Linked DNA regions of Homo sapiens. The protein of the gene in region 1 interacts with the protein of each later gene in a biochemical or structural test. Each region holds a gene or a part of one and is shown in the gene's direction. Other genes may lie near its edges.

What was found.
Region 2: the proteins of VDR (region 1) and NLRP3 form a complex in vitro, tested with the Homo sapiens proteins (one study listed by BioGRID).
Region 3: the proteins of VDR (region 1) and CCND3 form a complex in vitro, tested with the Homo sapiens proteins (one study listed by BioGRID).
Region 4: the proteins of VDR (region 1) and UBR5 form a complex in vitro, tested with the Homo sapiens proteins (one study listed by BioGRID).

The regions. Positions count from the first base shown.
Region 1 is NC_000012.12:47,841,015-47,846,011, reverse strand, and holds the end of VDR (vitamin D3 receptor), read left to right. Parts: intron 1-1,006; coding exon 1,007-1,266; coding exon of another isoform or gene 1,267-1,467; 3' UTR 1,468-4,475; downstream 4,476-4,997.
Region 2 is NC_000001.11:247,411,858-247,419,199, forward strand, and holds the start of NLRP3 (NACHT, LRR and PYD domains-containing protein 3), read left to right. Parts: upstream 1-4,315; 5' UTR 4,316-4,336; exon of another isoform or gene 4,337-4,458; intron 4,459-4,555; exon of another isoform or gene 4,556-5,189; intron 5,190-6,195; 5' UTR 6,196-6,937; coding exon of another isoform or gene 6,938-6,943; coding exon 6,944-7,220; intron 7,221-7,342. UniProt on the Homo sapiens protein: Sensor component of the NLRP3 inflammasome, which mediates inflammasome activation in response to defects in membrane integrity, leading to secretion of inflammatory cytokines IL1B and IL18 and pyroptosis.
Region 3 is NC_000006.12:41,934,436-41,938,831, reverse strand, and holds the end of CCND3 (G1/S-specific cyclin-D3), read left to right. Parts: exon of another isoform or gene 1-666; intron 667-1,437; coding exon 1,438-1,597; intron 1,598-2,136; coding exon 2,137-2,273; intron 2,274-2,724; coding exon 2,725-2,892; coding exon of another isoform or gene 2,893-2,981; 3' UTR 2,982-3,880; downstream 3,881-4,396. UniProt on the Homo sapiens protein: Regulatory component of the cyclin D3-CDK4 (DC) complex that phosphorylates and inhibits members of the retinoblastoma (RB) protein family including RB1 and regulates the cell-cycle during G(1)/S transition.
Region 4 is NC_000008.11:102,402,670-102,409,708, reverse strand, and holds part of UBR5 (E3 ubiquitin-protein ligase UBR5), read left to right. Parts: intron 1-7,039. UniProt on the Homo sapiens protein: E3 ubiquitin-protein ligase involved in different protein quality control pathways in the cytoplasm and nucleus. Mainly acts as a ubiquitin chain elongator that extends pre-ubiquitinated substrates.

The DNA.
Region 1 (4,997 bases):
TCAACATTCCTGTTATTTGAGGTTTCTTGCGGGCAGGGTACAAAACTTTGGAGCCTGAGAGATGGTTCTGCCTATATAGTTTACCTGATTGATTTTGGAGGCAATGTGCAGTGACCCTTGACCTCTTCCGCTGGTTAGAGGTGAGAAGAGGGAGAAAAGGCCGAAGAGGAAGTTATTGTGACCTTGGGGACATGATGTCGGTGATGAGGTCCAAAGAGGGGCGGCCCTGCCTCAGCCTGTGCTAGTGGCCTGTGCCCAGGGATGCTTTCCTGGACTGGAGGCTCAAGGAATGGAGATGGGCTCCTCTACCCCTGCCCAGCCAGCCTTCTCTCATTCATTCATCCACTTAGCAACAATTTATTGAGCACCTATTAGGTACCAGGCACTATGCTAGGTACTGGGGTTCAGCAGCAAATGGGACACAGGCTCCTCTCCCATGAAGCTTAGGAGGAAACATTAAACAAATGTTATTTAATTATTAATTCCTAACAAGGCAAGAGTTTTAAAAATAAAGTAAGTGATGCTACAGAAGGGTAGAATAGAAGGAGGGAAGCTGACGTGGTCTGGGCTACAGAGGTAGAGTGTTGCCAGGAATGGCCTTTTGGAGGAAGACCTTTTAAGCTGTTATCCAAAGGATCAGTAAGAGTCTGGCAAAGATAGCAGAGCAGAGTTCCAAGCAGAGGGAGCACAGATGTGAAGGCTGGTGGCCAGAGAGCATGGCGCATCGGGACGCTGAGGGATGGACAGAGCATGGACAGGGAGCAAGGCCAGGCAGGGACAGGGCCAGGTGCGCCCATGGAAGGACCTAGGTCTGGATCCTAAATGCACGGAGAAGTCACTGGAGGGCTTTGGGGCCAGGCAGTGGTATCACCGGTCAGCAGTCATAGAGGGGTGGCCTAGGGGGTGCTGCCGTTGAGTGTCTGTGTGGGTGGGGGGTGGTGGGATTGAGCAGTGAGGGGCCCAGCTGAGAGCTCCTGTGCCTTCTTCTCTATCCCCGTGCCCACAGATCGTCCTGGGGTGCAGGACGCCGCGCTGATTGAGGCCATCCAGGACCGCCTGTCCAACACACTGCAGACGTACATCCGCTGCCGCCACCCGCCCCCGGGCAGCCACCTGCTCTATGCCAAGATGATCCAGAAGCTAGCCGACCTGCGCAGCCTCAATGAGGAGCACTCCAAGCAGTACCGCTGCCTCTCCTTCCAGCCTGAGTGCAGCATGAAGCTAACGCCCCTTGTGCTCGAAGTGTTTGGCAATGAGATCTCCTGACTAGGACAGCCTGTGGCGGTGCCTGGGTGGGGCTGCTCCTCCAGGGCCACGTGCCAGGCCCGGGGCTGGCGGCTACTCAGCAGCCCTCCTCACCCCGTCTGGGGTTCAGCCCCTCCTCTGCCACCTCCCCTATCCACCCAGCCCATTCTCTCTCCTGTCCAACCTAACCCCTTTCCTGCGGGCTTTTCCCCGGTCCCTTGAGACCTCAGCCATGAGGAGTTGCTGTTTGTTTGACAAAGAAACCCAAGTGGGGGCAGAGGGCAGAGGCTGGAGGCAGGGCCTTGCCCAGAGATGCCTCCACCGCTGCCTAAGTGGCTGCTGACTGATGTTGAGGGAACAGACAGGAGAAATGCATCCATTCCTCAGGGACAGAGACACCTGCACCTCCCCCCACTGCAGGCCCCGCTTGTCCAGCGCCTAGTGGGGTCTCCCTCTCCTGCCTACTCACGATAAATAATCGGCCCACAGCTCCCACCCCACCCCCTTCAGTGCCCACCAACATCCCATTGCCCTGGTTATATTCTCACGGGCAGTAGCTGTGGTGAGGTGGGTTTTCTTCCCATCACTGGAGCACCAGGCACGAACCCACCTGCTGAGAGACCCAAGGAGGAAAAACAGACAAAAACAGCCTCACAGAAGAATATGACAGCTGTCCCTGTCACCAAGCTCACAGTTCCTCGCCCTGGGTCTAAGGGGTTGGTTGAGGTGGAAGCCCTCCTTCCACGGATCCATGTAGCAGGACTGAATTGTCCCCAGTTTGCAGAAAAGCACCTGCCGACCTCGTCCTCCCCCTGCCAGTGCCTTACCTCCTGCCCAGGAGAGCCAGCCCTCCCTGTCCTCCTCGGATCACCGAGAGTAGCCGAGAGCCTGCTCCCCCACCCCCTCCCCAGGGGAGAGGGTCTGGAGAAGCAGTGAGCCGCATCTTCTCCATCTGGCAGGGTGGGATGGAGGAGAAGAATTTTCAGACCCCAGCGGCTGAGTCATGATCTCCCTGCCGCCTCAATGTGGTTGCAAGGCCGCTGTTCACCCACAGGGCTAAGAGCTAGCGCTGCCGCACCCCAGAGTGTGGGAAGGGAGAGCGGGGCAGTCTCGGGTGGCTAGTCAGAGAGAGTGTTTGGGGGTTCCGTGATGTAGGGTAAGGTGCCTTCTTATTCTCACTCCACCACCCAAAAGTCAAAAGGTGCCTGTGAGGCAGGGGCGGAGTGATACAACTTCAAGTGCATGCTCTCTGCAGCCAGCCCAGCCCAGCTGGTGGGAAGCGTCTGTCCGTTTACTCCAAGGTGGGGTCTTTGTGAGAGTGAGCTGTAGGTGTGCGGGACCGGTACAGAAAGGCGTTCTTCGAGGTGGATCACAGAGGCTTCTTCAGATCAGTGCTTGAGTTTGGGGAATGCGGCCGCATTCCCTGAGTCACCAGGAATGTTAAAGTCAGTGGGAACGTGACTGCCCCAACTCCTGGAAGCTGTGTCCTTGCACCTGCATCCGTAGTTCCCTGAAAACCCAGAGAGGAATCAGACTTCACACTGCAAGAGCCTTGGTGTCCACCTGGCCCCATGTCTCTCAGAATTCTTCAGGTGGAAAAACATCTGAAAGCCACGTTCCTTACTGCAGAATAGCATATATATCGCTTAATCTTAAATTTATTAGATATGAGTTGTTTTCAGACTCAGACTCCATTTGTATTATAGTCTAATATACAGGGTAGCAGGTACCACTGATTTGGAGATATTTATGGGGGGAGAACTTACATTGTGAAACTTCTGTACATTAATTATTATTGCTGTTGTTATTTTACAAGGGTCTAGGGAGAGACCCTTGTTTGATTTTAGCTGCAGAACGTATTGGTCCAGCTTGCTCTTCAGTGGGAGAAAACACTTGTAAGTTGCTAAACGAGTCAATCCCCTCATTCAGGAAAACTGACAGAGGAGGGCGTGACTCACCCAAGCATATATAACTAGCTAGAAGTGGGCCAGGACAGGCCCGGCGCGGTGGCTCACGCCTGTAATCCCAGCAGTTTGGGAGGTCGAGGTAGGTGGATCACCTGAGGTCGGGAGTTCGAGACCAACCTGACCAACATGGAGAAACCCTGTCTCTATTAAAAATACAAAAAAAAAAAAAAAAAAAATAGCCGGGCATGGTGGCGCAAGCCTGTAATCCCAGCTACTCAGGAGGCTGAGGCAGAAGAATTGAACCCAGGAGGTGGAGGTTGCAGTGAGCTGAGATCGTGCCGTTACTCTCCAACCTGGACAACAAGAGCGAAACTCCGTCTTAGAAGTGGACCAGGACAGGACCAGATTTTGGAGTCATGGTCCGGTGTCCTTTTCACTACACCATGTTTGAGCTCAGACCCCCACTCTCATTCCCCAGGTGGCTGACCCAGTCCCTGGGGGAAGCCCTGGATTTCAGAAAGAGCAAGTCTGGATCTGGGACCCTTTCCTTCCTTCCCTGGCTTGTAACTCCACCAACCCATCAGAAGGAGAAGGAAGGAGACTCACCTCTGCCTCAATGTGAATCAGACCCTACCCCACCACGATGTGGCCCTGGCCTGCTGGGCTCTCCACCTCAGCCTTGGATAATGCTGTTGCCTCATCTATAACATGCATTTGTCTTTGTAATGTCACCACCTTCCCAGCTCTCCCTCTGGCCCTGCCTTCTTCGGGGAACTCCTGGAAATATCAGTTACTCAGCCCTGGGCCCCACCACCTAGGCCACTCCTCCAAAGGAAGTCTAGGAGCTGGGAGGAAAAGAAAAGAGGGGAAAATGAGTTTTTATGGGGCTGAACGGGGAGAAAAGGTCATCATCGATTCTACTTTAGAATGAGAGTGTGAAATAGACATTTGTAAATGTAAAACTTTTAAGGTATATCATTATAACTGAAGGAGAAGGTGCCCCAAAATGCAAGATTTTCCACAAGATTCCCAGAGACAGGAAAATCCTCTGGCTGGCTAACTGGAAGCATGTAGGAGAATCCAAGCGAGGTCAACAGAGAAGGCAGGAATGTGTGGCAGATTTAGTGAAAGCTAGAGATATGGCAGCGAAAGGATGTAAACAGTGCCTGCTGAATGATTTCCAAAGAGAAAAAAAGTTTGCCAGAAGTTTGTCAAGTCAACCAATGTAGAAAGCTTTGCTTATGGTAATAAAAATGGCTCATACTTATATAGCACTTACTTTGTTGCAAGTACTGCTGTAAATAAATGCTTTATGCAAACCAATTTGCCTTATCCTTATAAGGACCTTATGGGAGATGAATCATTATTACCCCCATTTGACAGAAAGGATAGCTTGAGCAATGCCACACTAGCAAGGGATGGGATTTGAACCTTCAGCAGCTAGGTTCAGAAGCCACAAATTAACTGCTACATTGTCCTGCTTCCTATTGAGTTGGGGGACCTGACAGACGACTGATGGTCTTGCTAGCTCTCTCCTAGAGAGGAGATAAAAGAGGTTCCCATTCCTAAAGCAGGCCCTGAGCCAGGAAAATTAGAGGTGCTGGACCAAACTGTGCTCTACTCCCAGGAAGTGTGCAGTCAATATATGACACCTACGTGAGACCCTCAAAAATGAAAACCAAACAGCTACTGGCAAAACTGTGTCTGCCATTAGAGATGGCGGCTGTGCCAGTGACCTGGAGGATTACAAATGACTGCTGTGCAGAAACAGGACTCCTAAGGGGCCCAACTTATGCCGATGCACTCCATTCTGCTTCCCAAGGAAGTGGGGTTTATGATGAAGGG
Region 2 (7,342 bases), on another chromosome or scaffold:
TAGAAAACCAAATTGTGGCCTATCCAACCCATGAAATACTTAACTGCAGTAAAAAGGAATAAGCTACTGATCTGAATCTCACAGGCATCATATGAAGTGAGCGGACTCGCTCACCAAAGGCTGCACACTGTTTATGTGATGCTCTGGAAAAGGTAATGCTTTAGCAGGTGGAAGAAGTGGGGCTGCGGGTGGGGACAGAGGCTGACTATGTGGCAGCACAGTGGGTGGGGACAGAGGCTGCACAGGGAGCATGTGCAGCTGATGCAGGTGCTCTGTGTGGGCTGTGGTGGTGGGTAGCTATATGCTTGTGAGCACTCACAGGCCTGTGCATGAAAAAGGTGCGAATATTTATTTTATTGTACATATTTCAGGTGTATAACATGGCAGTTTGATATACATAGTGAAATGATTGCTGCAGTCAAGCAAATTAACATGAGTTAACATAGCCACCATCTCACATAATAATCTTTCTTGTGGGTGGTAAAAACATCTAAAATCTCTCTTAGCAAATTTCAGGTTTATAATATTTTTAACTATCGTTCCCACACTGTTTGTTAGATCTCTCGGCTTATTTATCCTACATAACCGAAATTTCGTACCCTTTGACCGTCATTTTATTTCCTCTACCCCGGTAACTCTCTGTTTCTATATATTCAACTATTTTTTTTTGAGACAGGATCTCGGTCTGTCACTCAGGCTGGAGTGCAGTGGTGTGATCTCGGCTCACTGCAGCCTCGACCTCCCAGACTCAAGCAATCCTCCCACCTCAGCCTCCCAGCCTCTCAAGTAGCTGGGGTGACATGTGCACACCACTGCACCTGGCTTCCTTCCCTCCCTCCCTCCTTTCTTTTCTTTTTTTCATTTTTTTGGTAGAGGTGAAGCCTCACTATCTTGCCCAGGCTGGTCTCAAGCTCTTGGGCTCAAGTGATCCACTCACCTCAGCCTCCCAAAGTGCTGGGATTACAGGTGTGAGGCACCACTCCTGGCCTAACTTTTTTTTTTTTTTTTTTTAAGGTTCCACATATGAGTGAGATCATGTAGTGTTTGTCTTTCTGTGCCTGGCTTATTATGCTTTGTGTAAAGTCCACCGGGTTCATCTATGTTGTGGCAAATAGCAGAGTCTCAATTTTTAATACTAACTAAGATTGTATTGTGTATATATGCCCCAAACTCTTTATTTATTCATCTGTCAATAGACACTTGGGTTGTTTGCCTATCTGGACCATGGTGAATAATGCTGCTATGAACATGAGTGCACAGATGTCTTTGTGAGGTGGTGATTTTATTTCCTTTGGATACACACTCAGAAGAAGGATTGCTGGGTCATACGGTAGTTCTATTTTTAATTTCTTTAGGAACCTCCATATTGTTTTCTGCAATGGCTGCACCAATCTGCATTCCCAGCAGCAATGTGCAAGGGTTCCCTGTTCTTCACGCCCTAGCCAATGTTTGTCTCTTGTCATTTTGCTAATAGCCATCCTAACAGGTTTGAGGTGGTACCTCATTGTGGGTTTGGTTTGCATTTCCCTGATGATTAGTGATGTTGAGCACTTTTTTGTATACATGTTGACCATTTTTGTTTCTTTTTTAGAGAAATGTCTATTCAGTTCCTTTCTTCATTTTAAAAATCAGATTATTTGTTTTATGCTTTGAGTTGTGTGAATTCCTTACATATTTTGCATATTAACTACTTATCTGATATATGGCTTAAAACTATTTTCTTCCAATTTGTTGGCTACCTTTTCACTCTGTTGATTGTTTCTTTTGCTATACAGGAGCTTTTTACTTTGATGTATTCCCACTTATTTATCTTTACTTTTGTTCCTTTGCTTTTGTTGAGACATTAAAAATATCCATGCCAAGGCTAATATCAAGAAGTTTTCTCCTCTGTTTTCTATTTTTTATATTTAGTTTTTTATCTGTTTAGAGATTGGGTCTCATTCTGTTACCCAGGCTGGAATGCAGTAGTGTCATTATAGCTCACTGTAACCTCAAATTCCTGGGCTCAAGTGATCTTCTTGCCTCGGCCTCCTGAGTAGCTGGGCTACAGGTGCACAGCACCATGCCTGGCTAATTTTTTTTTTTTTAATTTTGTAGACACAAAGTCTCACTATGTTGCCCAGGCTGACTGTGAACTTCTGGCCTCAGGTGATCCTCCTGCCTCAGCCTCCCAGAGTGCTGGGATTACAGGCATGAGCCACCATGCCTGGCTTCTTCTCTATTTTCTTCTAGGAGTTTTACAGTTTTAGATCTTATGTTTAGATCTTTAATCCATTTTGAGTTGGTTTTTGTGTGTGCCAAGTTTTATTCTTTTGCGTGTGGAAATCCAGTTTCACCAAAAGCTTAATTTTTCAAAATCTTATATTTTTCTTGATTTTTTTTTCACACTTCTATAGCCAACATCTTTATTGAAGAGATTGTCCTTTCTCCATTGTGTCTTCTTGGTGACCTTGTCAAAGAATTAGTTGACTGCATATACTTGAGTTTATTTCTGTTCCACTGGTCTATGGGTCTGTTTTTATAAAGGCATGGATTTTTACTGCATATGAATTATACCTAAATTTGTCTTTTTTTTTTCCTTTTTCTGGAGAATGGGGTCTCACTATATTGCCCAGGCAGGTCTCGAACTCCTGGGCTCAAGCTATCCTCCCGCCTCTTGCCTCCCTGAGAGCTGGGATTACAGGCGTGAGCCACTGCGCCCGGCTGAATTATACCTAAATTAACTTGACTAAACAAACAAAAACAAAAAGATCCCAGGTTCAGCCAATGAGCTCCTTTTTTTTTTTTTGAAATGGAGTCTTGCTCTTGTCACCCAGGCTGGAGTGCAGTGGCACAATCTCAGCTCACTGCAGCCTCCACCTCCCAGGTTCAAGTGATTCTCTTGCCTCAGCTTCCTGAGTAGCTGGGATTACAGGTGCCCGCCACCACACCCAGCTATTTTTTTTTATATTTTTAGTAGAGATGGGGTTTCGTCATGTTGGCCAGGCTGGTCTCAAACTCCTGACCTTGTGATCTGCCTGCCTTGGCCTCTCAAAGTGCTGGGATTACAGGCATGAGCCACTGCACCCAGGCTGAGCTCCTTTCTTTTGGAGCATATTTGGTCTGCTTTCTCTCTAGCTTCAGCACCTGAAGTTTTTGCTGCTCCTGCCTCAGCTCCAGCCCCGAATGACACCTTTCACCTGGTTCATGGAGACTCAGGTCTGCTGTCATGCCCCTAAGCAGGACTAGATGCCTCTCTCATGTTGTAGAGCATTCTCTCTGCAGTTCTGTAGAAAGGTGGTAGTCATCGGAACCAACTGCTTATTCTAGCTTCTCTGTGCCAGGCTCTGTTTTAAAGGCCTCACGTTTAGCCATTCACTCAGTGTTTTCTGACAGCCTTCTAGGATAGGTACCGTTATTTGGGTTGATGTAGTGCTTGGTCAAATGCAGTATAATGAAGGGATCAAGGAGGGGGCAATTCCAAGCAAAACCACTTGTTCATCCATCCTGAGTCTAGGAGATTTGGAAGATCTAAAGAAGTAGCAGGCAATTATTGTCACCCTTTTACAGGTATGAGGCACAGACAGACCCAGTCATTTGCTGACATCCCTCCACTGAACTGGGTGCTCGTCCTTTTCACTCACCCAGAGGCTGAGCGAGTGCCTCTCACCCACCAAGCTCTGTTGAACTTGTGCCTTTGCCGGTCTGTGGTCCTGCGGCCGTCTCATGAGCTGCAGAGTAGGTCTGTGTGTGTCTCTCCTCAAGCTACTCAAGCTGAGGCTTTGTGTGCATGCCTGCCACATACCAGCCATTCCGTGAGTGTTAGTGGAACAGGTGAGTCAATGAGTCAGGGAGTAAAATTTGTGCTTTAAAAGTAGAACATGTCGGAGAGAACCTGTACTGCCTTCCAGCCATCTTGCTGTGAGAGGACAGGGCATGGACTCTGGAGTTTGAAGGCTGGGTCAGGTCATGCTCTGGATTCTTTACTCACTCGCATGGCATGTCCTTAGTTTCACTTCCCTCACTCTCAGTGGAGCCGTTGCAGCGGGCAGTGTCAGAGGCAACATCCATTTAGCACTGCCGATTTGACCCCCAGCCCCATCTCATACTGGCCTCCCACCCTGCTTCTGTGGGGTGCCTCAGAGGAGAGCAAGGTGAACCCCAGTATGGAACCGAGACACGGTTTTGACAACACTGTTGATCCCATTTGGAAAATCCAGCTATGTGATTAACCATTAGTCTCTCTGCCTCTGCTCTGATGTAAGTGGAGACCACATCCTTCCTGCCCCTTCTGGGGCTGCGACTGCTATAAATTCATTGCATTTCCTCTCTAGCTGTTCCTGAGGCTGGCATCTGGGTAAGTCCAGCTCCGCGGGGCAGTGTGGGCGACAGGACCGGGAGAGCAGTGGGGGAGATTGTGTTCAGAGGGCAGAACTTGTCCTGGTTAATGCACTAGGAATTTCTTCTGGCGTCTCCAAGGTTGTGCTTCAACAACATTTCTGGAATGTTCTTTTATCATTATTTGGGCTCTACGTGTGCAAGTTCGTGTGTGTGTATGTGGCGGGGGGAAGCGGGGAGGACAGCGGCAGCAACCATAGTTTACACCCACGACTTCAGCAGATTTGCCCAGTATCCCTCCCAGGGGAGAAGATGGATGGGATATACAGAAGGAAACAAACCTCCTTAAAGACCAAAGGGCAGCAGATTTTTGTGCTGGTGTTAGGGTGGAAGGAGCACAGAAGAAAGGCAGAATCCTGATGCAGATGGAAGGACTGATGGGGCAGGAGCTGGGAGGGTATGCGGAGCTAATAGGGCTGTCTGGAGAGCAGTCACCTCAGGATGGGCAGGAGCTGGGAGGGTATGCGGAGCTAATAGGGCTGTCTGGAGAGCAGTCACCTCAGGATGCACAGGGCTGGGTTTGCAGGGCTCAGGAGGCGAGGAGTAGATAGGCAGGAATGGAGATGGGACGGGAGAGATGAGTGAGTCTGAGGCATCTTGACATTGAACTGCAGTCACAGAAATTCCAATTTGGAGAGCTCCACCGTTTTCCAGGCTCTCTGCCTCCCTTGAGTGTTATTTATGGCTTTAGGTTGAGGTGCTTTGCCAAATAGAGTATAATCAAGGGATCAAGGAGGGAACAATTCCAAACAAAGCCAACTTGTTCATCCATCCGGACTCTAGGAGATATGGAAGATCTAAAGATACAGCAGGTGATTGCTAGTTTTTGTGGAACTCACAGTCTAGTTGGGAAGACTATGTTGGTGAATGCTGCAGTGATACACCTGTGATAAATGCTGGGGAAGTGTGTCTTTTAGTCATCTATTTTGTTGTCTTTGTCTTTGTCTGACTGAAACAAGTGATGGAAGACATGGTCTCATATCTCTGGTCAAAATCCTGGCTCTGTTCCTTCCTGGTTCTAAACCCCTCGGCAGGCTTCCTAGTCCCCCTAAGACTCAGTTTATGCATCTATAAAATGGGGCTAGGAATAGGTGCACCTCATAGAGCTCTGTGCAGGTTAGATGGGGAAAAACATCAGTGAGTGCCTAGCCTGTGGAAAGCTCTAAATTAATGTGAATTATAATGATAACAATTGCGAATTTTGCAAGGAGACATTAAAGGATGTATGTTTTTATTTATTTTATTTTATTCTATTTTATTTTTTGAGATGGAGTTTTGCTCTTATTGCCCAGGCTGGAGTGCAGTGGTGTGATCTTGGCTCATCGCAACCTCCGCCTCCTGGGTTCAAGCGATTCTCCTGCCTCAGCCTCCCGAGTAGCTGGGATTACAGGTGCCTGGTACCATGCCCGGTTAATTTTTGTATTTTTAGTAGAGACGGGATTTCTCCCTGTTGTTTGGTGAGCCTGGTCTCCAACTCCTGACCTCAGGTGATCCGCCCACCTCGGCCTCCCAAAGTGCTGGGATTACAGGGATGTATGTTTTTATTATTCTCCATTATGCACTCCCAGCTTCATCTCACTTCAATCCACTGGTTGATAGAAGTGCAGTCAAAGACTGTCCCCTCCTCTGCAAGCTTTTATGTTCTCTCTCCTCTCTCCCTAGCCACGTCCTGTTCTGTTATCAACACACTTACTCACCTCCTGGCCTTCTCCTTCTATTGTCTCTCATCCCTCTTCCCTCACAAAAACAGAAGCAAAGAGCCAGAGCCTTCAGTTTGGAGGAACTGAAAACATTCTCTTCTGCTTTCTCATTTTGTAGATGAGGAAACTGAAGTTGAGGAATAGTGAAGAGTTTGTCCAATGTCATAGCCCCGTAATCAACGGGACAAAAATTTTCTTGCTGATGGGTCAAGATGGCATCGTGAAGTGGTTGTTCACCGTAAACTGTAATACAATCCTGTTTATGGATTTGTTTGCATATTTTTCCCTCCATAGGGAAACCTTTCTTCCATGGCTCAGGACACACTCCTGGATCGAGCCAACAGGAGAACTTTCTGGTAAGCATTTGGCTAACTTTTTTTTTTTTGAGATGGAGTCTTGCTGTGTCGCCTAGGCTGGAGTGCAGTGGCGTGATCTTGGCTCACTGCAGCCTCCACTTCCCGGGTTCAATCAATTCTCCTACCTCAACTTCCTGAGTAGCTGGGATTACAGGCGCCCGCCACCACACCCGGCTCATTTTTGTACTTTTAGTAGAGACACAGTTTTGCCATGTTGGCCAGGCTGGTCTTGAATTCCTCAGCTCAGGTGATCTGCCTGCCTTGGCCTCTCAAAGTGCTGGGATTACAGGCGTGAGCCACTGTGCCCGGCCTTGGCTAACTTTTCAAAATTAAAGATTTTGACTTGTTACAGTCATGTGACATTTTTTTCTTTCTGTTTGCTGAGTTTTTGATAATTTATATCTCTCAAAGTGGAGACTTTAAAAAAGACTCATCCGTGTGCCGTGTTCACTGCCTGGTATCTTAGTGTGGACCGAAGCCTAAGGACCCTGAAAACAGCTGCAGATGAAGATGGCAAGCACCCGCTGCAAGCTGGCCAGGTACCTGGAGGACCTGGAGGATGTGGACTTGAAGAAATTTAAGATGCACTTAGAGGACTATCCTCCCCAGAAGGGCTGCATCCCCCTCCCGAGGGGTCAGACAGAGAAGGCAGACCATGTGGATCTAGCCACGCTAATGATCGACTTCAATGGGGAGGAGAAGGCGTGGGCCATGGCCGTGTGGATCTTCGCTGCGATCAACAGGAGAGACCTTTATGAGAAAGCAAAAAGAGATGAGCCGAAGTGGGGTGAGTGGAAGGAAGACTTTTAAAAAAAATTGTGGCCAAGTGCACATAGTGTACAATTTTCCATCTTTATATATATATATATATATATTTTTTTTTGAGACGGAGTTGCTCTTGTTGCCCAG
Region 3 (4,396 bases), on another chromosome or scaffold:
CCAAGGAAGGAGGGCAAGGTCCTGCCTCAGCATCGCACTGAGCAGATGAGTGTAGAACCTGGGTCTTCTAGCTAGACCAGGTTGCCTTAAAAGTCAGGAATGTGATGGCCGCTGCCACCTACTGAAGCTAAGCACTCCCAGGGGTGTGTTCTCCACCAGTTAACACTGGGATTCTCTGGTTGCCTGGATATGGGGAAAGGTGGCCACTTTCCCTCAAACACAACCCCTTGCCTCCCCATAGGGAGAGTCCCACTCCCAGTTGCCTTCCAGATGCTTCCTTAGAAGCTGAGTCCCTTCTGTTTACTGCTGAGTTAGGAGTTGGCTCCTGGGACATGCACTAGGGGTAGCGTTGTAATTTATCTGTCTCACTTCTGGCTCCAGGCCAGGCTATTTTCTCTGGGGCTCTGTGAGGGTAGGGGTTGATTTGAGAGGCTGACACCTAAGCTGGGGCCAAGAGAGAGACAGCTGTGGCTGGGGCCTGGAAGAGGTTGGGTGGGGTTGCCATTTCTGCCTCAATAAGGAGTCAAACCCACAAGTTCCTTCCTGAGATAAAACAATGAAGAAATCCTCATGTGTGCAACTCAGAAATGGGGCCAGGTCTGGGAACCCATGACGAGTGGACTGGGGTGGAGCTCCCAGCCTTCTCCCGAGACCTAGTACTGGCAGGTAGGCTTGGGTAGGTGAGGATAGGGCTTGATCCCTCTGGAATCATTTGGAGCCATCCTGTCTGGCTTGGCCTCTACCTATCCTCCTGAAAGTCAAGTGGCATGGGGCACTACGGGTTCCAGCTAAAGGGGGTGGGGTGGGGTGCTATACCTCAGGACCCATCCCTGATATCCTACCAAGGGGATGTGGCTTGGGTTGGGCAATCTCCCCTTTGAGGAACCTGAGAAAAGGCTCTGTGGCTGTCATTGGAGGAGTCATACTCCCTTCTGTTGATTCAAGAAGTGTGGACTTGGCTGGGATGCAGAGTTGCAGGGGAAGCTAGTGGTGATCTCCCCTTTCACAAATCCTTGGGGTTGAGAGAGTCTTTCTGCTTCATCCCAGAAGAGAGCCCAGTTCATGGTGATGCTGTGGTATCTGCTGCTTCCGTCTTTCAGCCCTGGCTGGAGAAATCCTCAGAGCCCTGAATGAAGTCAGGAGAAGGCCTGGATTATTGGCCCCTTAAACATAACCAGACAGGATTAAAAGGGATAATCCATGTAAAGCATGTTGTCCTGGCACCTAGTAAATGATCAGTAAGTGCTCAAAGCACATGCCTCCTCCTCTTCCCTGCCTTGAACTCCATGGTGCCCGGCCTTAAAATCAGAAACAGAACTGGGGTCTTGGGCTTTAAAAGTTTGATGGGCTTCCCTGCCTGAGACTTTGAGACTTCTGCTTTGCTCCCTCCTCTTCACTTCTCCAGCCACTGACCCCACCCTTTCCCCGCTTTTTCAGGACTGGGAGGTGCTGGTCCTAGGGAAGCTCAAGTGGGACCTGGCTGCTGTGATTGCACATGATTTCCTGGCCTTCATTCTGCACCGGCTCTCTCTGCCCCGTGACCGACAGGCCTTGGTCAAAAAGCATGCCCAGACCTTTTTGGCCCTCTGTGCTACAGGTAAGAGCCCTATGCACATTTTTGCCAAATTGGAAAAATCAGAAGACTTATAAGGGTGAGAGGTAACTGAAGATTCTGGTTTATACTGTCAAAATTCCTTTGTGAAAATTATACCCCCTCTGAGCCCCCAGTCTCAATGCAGAAAAGCAGGTTATAATCAGCTATATGGGATCTCAGACCCCTCCAGTTTGTAGTGGGGACACTGAGGGTATAGAGAGAAGTGACTTGCCCAAGGTCTCACAGTGAACAGGTTGGGAACAGAACCCCAGTCTCTTGGCCCTAGTTGTGTTCCCATACTAGGGAGTGTCTTGTCTATTCCCGGGACCTATGGAAACTGGCAGTTGGTTCTGATCTCTAGGAAAGATACTCTTTCCTGTCTTCCTCCCTTGCTGATATCTTGCCCCACCCACTGCTGGAGTTTTCCAGCATGTCCTCTGCTCTACTCATGCTGCCTGGCACTTTCCAAGGAGTCGGAAGTCCATGCTGGCCGTTATCCTTCAGGTTTCCTTCTCTCATGGTTCCCTTTCCTCCTCTCCAAGATTATACCTTTGCCATGTACCCGCCATCCATGATCGCCACGGGCAGCATTGGGGCTGCAGTGCAAGGCCTGGGTGCCTGCTCCATGTCCGGGGATGAGCTCACAGAGCTGCTGGCAGGGATCACTGGCACTGAAGTGGTGAGTGCTGGGTAGCTGGGCAGCAGCCTCTCCATTCATAAAGTAGTGCTATGCCCTGAGCCTCCAGTAGAGGGAAACCTCCAACCCCAACCTGGTCCCAAGTCCTGGTTTCACAACCTTGGGGCTTTGTGGCTTTTTATCTCCTGCCTTGGTCTGGGGAAGAGCAAGTATCTTGGGTGGGGTGAAGGGCACTGGCCCTAGGGGTTCTTTTCTTGCCAAGTGGTGTGCTGGAGTGGGGGTGGGGGGTTTGGTGTCAGATGCAGGGCTGCTCTCACACTCCCTTGCCACATCCTCTTGCTAGTTTCTGAGAACTAAAGAGCGATTCCTGGGGCCGGGCTGTGGCCTAACCTCCCCAGACTTCCCCATGTGTTGGGAGCTGTCCTTCCCCTGCACCTGCTGCCAGATGCTATGGGGGGAGTGTTTGCTCCTCACTCTTCTCCCATGTTCCCAGGACTGCCTGCGGGCCTGTCAGGAGCAGATCGAAGCTGCACTCAGGGAGAGCCTCAGGGAAGCCTCTCAGACCAGCTCCAGCCCAGCGCCCAAAGCCCCCCGGGGCTCCAGCAGCCAAGGGCCCAGCCAGACCAGCACTCCTACAGATGTCACAGCCATACACCTGTAGCCCTGGAGAGGCCCTCTGGAGTGGCCACTAAGCAGAGGAGGGGCCGCTGCCACCCACCTCCCTGCCTCCAGGAACCACACCACATCTAAGCCTGAAGGGGCGTCTGTTCCCCCTTCACAAAGCCCAAGGGATCTGGTCCTACCCATCCCCGCAGTGTGCACTAAGGGGCCCGGCCAGCCATGTCTGCATTTCGGTGGCTAGTCAAGCTCCTCCTCCCTGCATCTGACCAGCAGCGCCTTTCCCAACTCTAGCTGGGGGTGGGCCAGGCTGATGGGACAGAATTGGATACATACACCAGCATTCCTTTTGAACGCCCCCCCCCACCCCTGGGGGCTCTCATGTTTTCAACTGCCAAAATGCTCTAGTGCCTTCTAAAGGTGTTGTCCCTTCTAGGGTTATTGCATTTGGATTGGGGTCCCTCTAAAATTTAATGCATGATAGACACATATGAGGGGGAATAGTCTAGATGGCTCCTCTCAGTACTTTGGAGGCCCCTATGTAGTCCGTGCTGACAGCTGCTCCTAGAGGGAGGGGCCTAGGCCTCAGCCAGAGAAGCTATAAATTCCTCTTTGCTTTGCTTTCTGCTCAGCTTCTCCTGTGTGATTGACAGCTTTGCTGCTGAAGGCTCATTTTAATTTATTAATTGCTTTGAGCACAACTTTAAGAGGACATAATGGGGTCCTGGCCATCCCACAAGTGGTGGTAACCCTGGTGGTTGCTGTTTTCCTCCCTTCTGCTACTGGCAAAAGGATCTTTGTGGCCAAGGAGCTGCTATAGCCTGGGGTGGGGTCATGCCCTCCTCTCCCATTGTCCCTCTGCCCCATCCTCCAGCAGGGAAAATGCAGCAGGGATGCCCTGGAGGTGGCTGAGCCCCTGTCTAGAGAGGGAGGCAAGCCCTGTTGACACAGGTCTTTCCTAAGGCTGCAAGGTTTAGGCTGGTGGCCCAGGACCATCATCCTACTGTAATAAAGATGATTGTGAAATAAAACTGGCTTTGGCTTCTTGGATTGGTGTGTGGGTAAGTCTATTTCTGCACTGTATGAGGTAAGGAGGTGGAAGTCAATGGTCTAAAGCAGGGATCATTGAGCCTTTTCTGTAAAGGGCTGGATATTTAGGCTTTGTGGGGTACATGGTCTCTGACCCAAATATAGTCAGTTCTGCTTTATAATGTGACCTATGCGTTCCTAAAAATCACTATGCCATGCAAAATTGCACAATAAAGACCACAGGTCTCATGGGAAAAATGGGGCTTGAAGCACAACACTCAAATGAGTGACACATTTAAAAAAAAAGGATAGCTTGGTTTTTACATATGTCAAATGGTTGAGAAATTATATCACAATAAATATGGCCTTTTATCTTGAAGACATGCACTTTGCTTTTGGAAGTGGACGTCGGAAGGGTTGCTCAACACAGGTGGGGAGATGAGTGAGGTAGCTGGTACATGTTTAGGTGTGAGTTTTGTGTACTACTTAGGCTTGGTTCAGCTAGATACAGTTTCCCA
Region 4 (7,039 bases), on another chromosome or scaffold:
ATAAGCGTATTTTCATCTAAAGATAAAAACTTTACCAAGTTTTAGTAAGTTGGGGCAATAAAAAAGCTACTGCTACTGTAGCTTGACTTTTTTTATTATGAGAAATGTATGAGAGTCACAAATAAAATGATAATCATAGTTATGTATGAAAAGGGTGTAAATAGACTTTATACTTTGGAATAAAAGTAGTAAGATTAGACAGGCAGAATGGTACTGCAAATAAATTGCTCAGCTGAAGAAAACTTGGTCCTCAAAACAGTAGTGTTTTCTTCAAATACGTTTTCTTTCTTTACCCACATCCTCTTAAAAAGTCAAATATTTTGTTCAGCATCATAGTCTGATGTCTCAAGTGTCTAAAATGTACAAAGCATAAAAAAGTATCTTTTTTTCATAATTTGTGTTTTCAGACTTGCCAATAATGAATAATAATGATGCCAGGATGAAATTGACAAATACAGGTGGGGATGGCTGGGGTGGAAAGAAGAGGATGTTGGCTGTGACTTCCCAGAATGATTACAAGGTGCCTGGCACAGAATGCTGGGCCCTCAAGCAAATATTCATTGAGCTGAATTGAAACCATTCAGTGCTCAGATACTTTGGACATTTTGATCTCCTTTCCAATGGATTTCTTGAGTTAGTACTACGTTCCTGCTTAAAACATTGTCTCAGAGAAACAGTAAAACAATATAAAGAATGTGGTTCGTCGAGCTTGAGGGGAGAGCTGAAAGGCCTGCCTCACTAATAGCCTGGAAAGTGCCTCACTAATGAGCTGAAAAAATAGGCACAGAGATTTACAGTGTTTATGCAGGGATACAACTACTGAGAGACAGCTGAGGTCCACCTGATGGGTCTTCTGACTTTTCTTTAAAGTCCAGGGCTCCATTCCACTTCACGTGGCTTGTATTCCAGAATGGTTCTGCTGTCTCAGACATCCCAGCCTTCAGGCAGTGTGGCCACCTGTCTTAGTGTTTTGATTCCGTTTTCCCCTCAACTGCTCTTTCCAGGGCTCCTAATGGGTTTATGCCTTTTTTTCAGAGGCTGACGCTCTTAACCTTTTCTTGGTACTAGGTTAGGATAGGTCTTCTTAAGGTGATGTGGTTATGGCATTTATTGTCCTTGTCCTGAATTATTCCTCAAGATGCAGGTTAGTTACGAAACAAACCAGTTCTTATTGCTTGTCTGTATGTGGAATTTTCCTGTGAGATTTGCCTTTTGGCATTACAACGTATTGTGCAGTCATAAACAGTCTTTATTGAGATTGTCATATCAAAAGGATTTTTCTCTAAGCTTAGAGTTTCCCTTTCAGGTGTCATAACACAAGGTAAGATACTATAGACAGGAGTTTCAAACTCTGCGCTGGTAGCCTAGTCATTTAACCTCTTAGAACCCCCCACATCAATCTCTGAATTAGGTGTAGCACTCTCCTCAAGGTCAGGGAGGAACAGTTGAGACAGTAGATGGGAAAAGATCAATATTATAATGTGGATTCTACGGAAAACATTACGAAGAGATGGTTACTTTTAACTTTTTACGTGTTGCCTGGTTTCCAGATAGCAAAGCAGGAACTCAAAAGAGTTGCCCTAGAATATCCTTAGCATTCAGAGCAGAATCGACTCTTAGTTCTAGATTAGTACTTCTCAGCTTGGTGTGATTTTGCACCCTCCACACACAACCCCCTCCCCTTATTGGGCAGTGTCTGGAGACATTTTTTATTGTCACAGCTGGGGCATTGCTACTGGCCTCTAGTGGATGGAGGCCAGAGATGCTGCTAAACATCCTATAATGCATAGGATAGCCCCCACAACAAAGAATTACGGGGTCCAAAATGTCAGTTGTGCTAAGGTTAAGGAAGCCCATCCTAGATGATCTTCAATGCATTTGGTTGTAAAAATAAGTGAAAATGACTTTTATGAAGAATATTTCAAGCAATATACGTTCTTTTTTTTTTTCTTTTTTGAGACACAGTTTTGCTTTGTCTCCTAGGCTGGAGGCAGTGGCCGGATCTCGGCTCAATGCAACGTCCACCTCCTGGGTTCAAGCGATTCTCCTTCCTCAGCCTCCCAAGTTACAGACGCATACCACTATGTCTGGCTAATTTTTGTATTTTTAGTAGAGATGGGGTTTCGTCATGTTGGCTAGGCTGCTCTTGAACCTAACCTCAGGTGATCCATCTGCCTCAGCCTACCAAAATGCTGGGATTACAGGCATGAGCCAATGTACCTGGCCGCAATATATATTCTTAATTTTTAAAACATGACTGTTTAAATTAAGATTAAGGCCCGGCCAGTGGCTCATGCCTGTAATCCCAGCACTTTGGGTGGCTGAGGCGGGCGAATCACTTGAGGTCAGGAGTTCGAGACCCCTTAGCCTGGCCAACATGGTGAAACCCCATCTCTACTAAAAATACAAAAATTAGCTGGGTGTGGTGGTGGACGCCTGTAATCCCAGCTACTCAAGAGGTTGAGGCAGGAGAATTGCTTGTGCCTGTGAGACAGAGCTTGAGCCCGTGAGGCAGAGGTTGCAGTGAGCCAAGATCGCGCCACTGCACTCCAGCCTGGGCGACAGAGCAAGACTCTGTCTCAAAAAAAAGGAAAAAAAAATTAATTAAGATTGATTAAAATTAAATAAAAATTTAAGTCACTTCATCTGTAGCTAGTCACATTTTAAGTGCACTGTAGTGCCACGTAGCTACTCACTACCACATTGGACAGTGCAAATACAGAGCAGTGCCATCATCACTGAAAGTTCTCTTGGATAGTGTTGGCATAGAAAGTGTGTTTTTGCACAAGTCTTGGCATTCAGTGAGTGCTCATTATGTTTATTAAGAACTTTGAGGTTTTAAAGACTCAGGCATATCTTCACTCAGTAGGAGCCAGAAAATATGCCAGGGATTATATGAAGCATAACAAAGGTTGTGGTGAGTAGAGGTTATAATAGTTGAAAGCTGCTTGAAATTTTATTGTGGTGCACCAAAAAACAAAAAAACAAAAAAATCAATAAAAAAACCCCCCAGACATTAGGTTGTGTGGGATGGAGCATCATATTACCAAATCAGTGAAAAATCTCACCATTTGATTATTGAGATTGTTACCTAAAAGCAATACTAAATGCATTATGCCAGGTGCGGTGGCTCATGCCTGTAATCCCAGCACTTTGGGAGGCTGAGGTGGGCGGATCATCTGAGGTCAGAAGTTTGAGACCAGCCTGGCCAACATGGTGAAACCCCATCTCTACTAAAAATACAAAAATTAGCTGGGCATGGTGGTGCATGCCTGTAGTTGCAGCTACTCAAGAGGCTGAGGCAGGAGAATTGCTTGAACCTGGGAGGTGGAGGTTGCAGTGAGCCAAGATTGCGCCACTGCACTCCAGCTTGGGTGACAGAGCGAGACTCCATCTCAAAAACAAAAACAAAACCAAAAACAAACAATAAAAAACCAATACTAGATTTATTGTATTGGAAAAGTACAGTCTGGCCTAACTAAAATGTTTAAATGAATTTGCTTAAGTAAGATTAACAGCAGGGTGTAGAATAGCCAAGCAAAATAGAAAATCAAAACAAAGGCAGAGCAATTTTATAAATCAGGATATCTGTGACTGAATCATAGGCCTAGGAATAAACAGACACTTGTGAAGAAAATTACAGGATACACAGGAATACGACTAGGAATAATAGGTGAAATTAGGAAAGGTCAGGGTTTTTTCCCCTAACAATTAGACCATTAGGTTATTTAGGAAATAGTTTCCAAAGGAAAATTTAATTGCTGAAGACTGAGTTACATGGACGTAGATCTTATAAGGTATATTAAAGGAAGCAATTTTATGTTACAGGAGGATGTACTTAATGTCTCCCCTCCCTCATTTTATCATACATATTTATTTTGTTTTTTGAGTCTCGCTCTTGCCCACGCTGGAATGCAGTGGTGCCATTTTGGCACAATCTTGGCTCACTGCAACCTCCGCCTCCCGGGTTCAAGCGATTCTGCTGCCTCAGCCTCCTGAGTAGCTGGGAGTACAGGCGCACGCCACCATACCTGGCTAATTTTTGTATTTTTAGTAGAGATGGGGTTTCACCGTGTTGATCACGCTGGTCTTGAACTCCTGACCTCGTGATCTGCCCACCTAGGCCTCCCAAAGTGTTGGGATTACAGGCGGGAGCCACTGCGCTCGCCCATATTATACATATTTCTAATTAAGAAAACAGACTCTAGTTAGCATCCATGTTTCTGTCATTTTGACTCCTTGGCATTCTGGTCATGTGAAAATAGCCTCTTCTCTTGGCTCACTGTGGTTATGAATTGTTGGTTTATTTTTAGAACTGGTTTTTAAGTTTTCCCCTGAGTATTATTTTTAAGCCTTTTATTTTGGAAAATTTTAAGCATATACAAGAGTAGAGAGAATAGTATGATGAACAACCATGTTCCCATCACACAGTCTTAACAGTTGTCAACTCATGGCCAATCTGATTTCAACTCTCTCCCCATTTATTCTCCTCTATCAGGTAATTTAATTGCTGTATCTTCACTATATATTTCAAAATATGAAGCCTTTAAAAAAAAACCTGAAAAAACCTTAATAACAAAATTGCCCAGATTTTCCTGTTGTCTCATAAATGCTTATTTCTGATTGACAATTTTGATAATTTTACTTAATAAAGCTGATTGGGTTCTAACATGTTAAAAAATTTGACATTTGTAGAATAACCTTAGAATTTGGATTGTAACCTTAGAAGAAGGGGCCACTGGGGAATTATTTAGTTCCTTAAAGCTCAGTGCTGTAACTTTTTTTTTTTTTTTTTTTTTTTGAGATGGAGTTTCGCTCTTGTTGCCCAGGCTCGAGTGCAGTGGCGTGATCTCTGCTCACTGCAACTTCCGCCTCCCGGGTTCAAGTGATTCTCCTGCCTCAGCTTCCCAAGTGGCTGAGATTATAGGTGTGAGCCACCACGCCTGGCTAATTTTGTATTTTTAGTGGAGACGGGGTTTGACCATGTTGGTCAGGCTGGTCTCGAACTCCCGACCTCAGGTGTTCACCTGCCTTAGCCTCCCAGGGTGTTGGGATTACAGGCGTGAGCCACTGTGCCAGGCCTCAGTGCTATAACTTCTTAACCTCCGGTATGACAGCATTTTTTGTCAGCAGTCACTTGTAATTGTTAGATAAGGATGATAAGACAGGATTCTTGAAATTCAGTGATTTTTCCATGGGGTCACTTTGAGAAATAAGATTGTCATGTGAAAAGTTTGCAGCATTTTCATGAACTAATAGACAGGTGAGGTATTAGTCAATTGAACTTGGCTATAAGAAATTATTCTCTGAGATCATATTTCTTATTACTTTCTTGAGACAATCAGTGTAGTGGTAACAAAACCCCTTCCAAATTAGAAATACGATAAATTCTTAGATAACCATGCTTTGTAACATTGTCATTTTGTCAGGATATTAAAGAAGGTATTAATATTTAATGTTATTTTACTTGTAAATACACAATTTATGTTACTTGCACAGCTAAAGTACTGTTATTTGTTCAATTTCTGACAGTATCACTTAATAAAATGTCTTTGACTCTTTCATCTTTATTGAGTTATACTTTACATTCAGTAAAATTAACCCATTTTAGGTGTACAGTTTGATGAATTTCGGCAAATGTGTACAGTTGTGTAATCACCACCACAATCCAGGTACAGGACATTTTCATCACCCCAAAAAGTTACCTGGTTTCCCTTTGTATTTTCAGTCACTTCCCCCTAGGCTAGGTCCTGGCTACCTAGCAACCATTGTTCTGCTTTCTCTCACTGTAATGCTTTTCCTTTTTGAATTTCATAGAAATGGAATCATGTGTCTGTTTTCTTTTGCTTAGAACAGTGCTTTTGCAACAGATCTGTGTTGCAGCATGTAGTAGTTTCTTCTTTTATATTAAAAGTAGTATTTTCATTGCTTGACCTGGGAAGGTGGAGGTTGCAGTGAATCAAGATTGTGTCATTGAATTCCAGCCTGGGCAACAGAGTGAGACTCTGTCTCAAAACAAACAAAAAAAGTAGTACTTATTTCATGACTGTACCACAGTTTTTAAATCTGCTTTCTAGCTGATATAAATTTGGGTAGTTTACTCTTTCTAGCTATTCTCTAGTCTTTATTTTTTTCTTGTTTATTTATTATTTTAATTTTTTTTGAGACAGGCTCTTGCGCTATTGCCCAGGCTGGAGTGTAGTGATGTGAACATGGCTCACTGCAGCCTTGACCTTCTGGGCTCAAGCGATCCTCCTGCCTCAGCCTCCTGAGTATCTGGGACTACAGGCTTGCATTACCACATCTGGCTAATTTTTAATTTTTTGTAGAGATGGAGTCTCTCTGTGTTGCCCAGGCTGGTCTCGAACTCCTGGGCTCAAGCAATTATCCCGTCTCAGCCTCTCCAAGGTGCTGGGATTACAGGCATGAACCACTGTGCCTCGCCTTATTTATTTCTTTAAAATTAGAGACATGGTCTTGCTGTGTTGCCTAGGCTGGTCTCAGACTCCTGGCCTCAAGCTGTCTTCCCACCTTGGCCTCCCAAAATGCTGGGATTACAGGCAGGAGACACCATGGCTGGCCTGAAGTTTTTCTTGGCTTCAATTTATCACAATGTTTTTCATAGGAAAAGTCCACTGATAATAAAAACCTAGATTTTTCTTGACAGCAAATTTTTGTGTTAATTAAAAAACATACTAGTATATGTAAAAAGATTATATTTTAGAATTCCATTAAATGTAATGGTTGTATTCTAGATTGCTAGTTATAAAGATGATGATAGTGGCTAGTCGACAAAGCACTGTGATGAATGGATCAGTAGATAAGTTTTTATTTTCTTCCCCATGAGTTCAGGCTCCATTTCTGTGATATAGAAGTGTCGAGAACCTGCCGTTTCAAGAAATTGGCTCTGCTCCAGCATGAATCTGCTGTTCAGAATTCAGGCGATGAGGTATTCCAGGTCTTTACTTGAATTCAGATACCAGGTCTACCTCACAGACAACCTGGAACTCCAGAGATGGCCTTAACTGTGTCTCCAAGA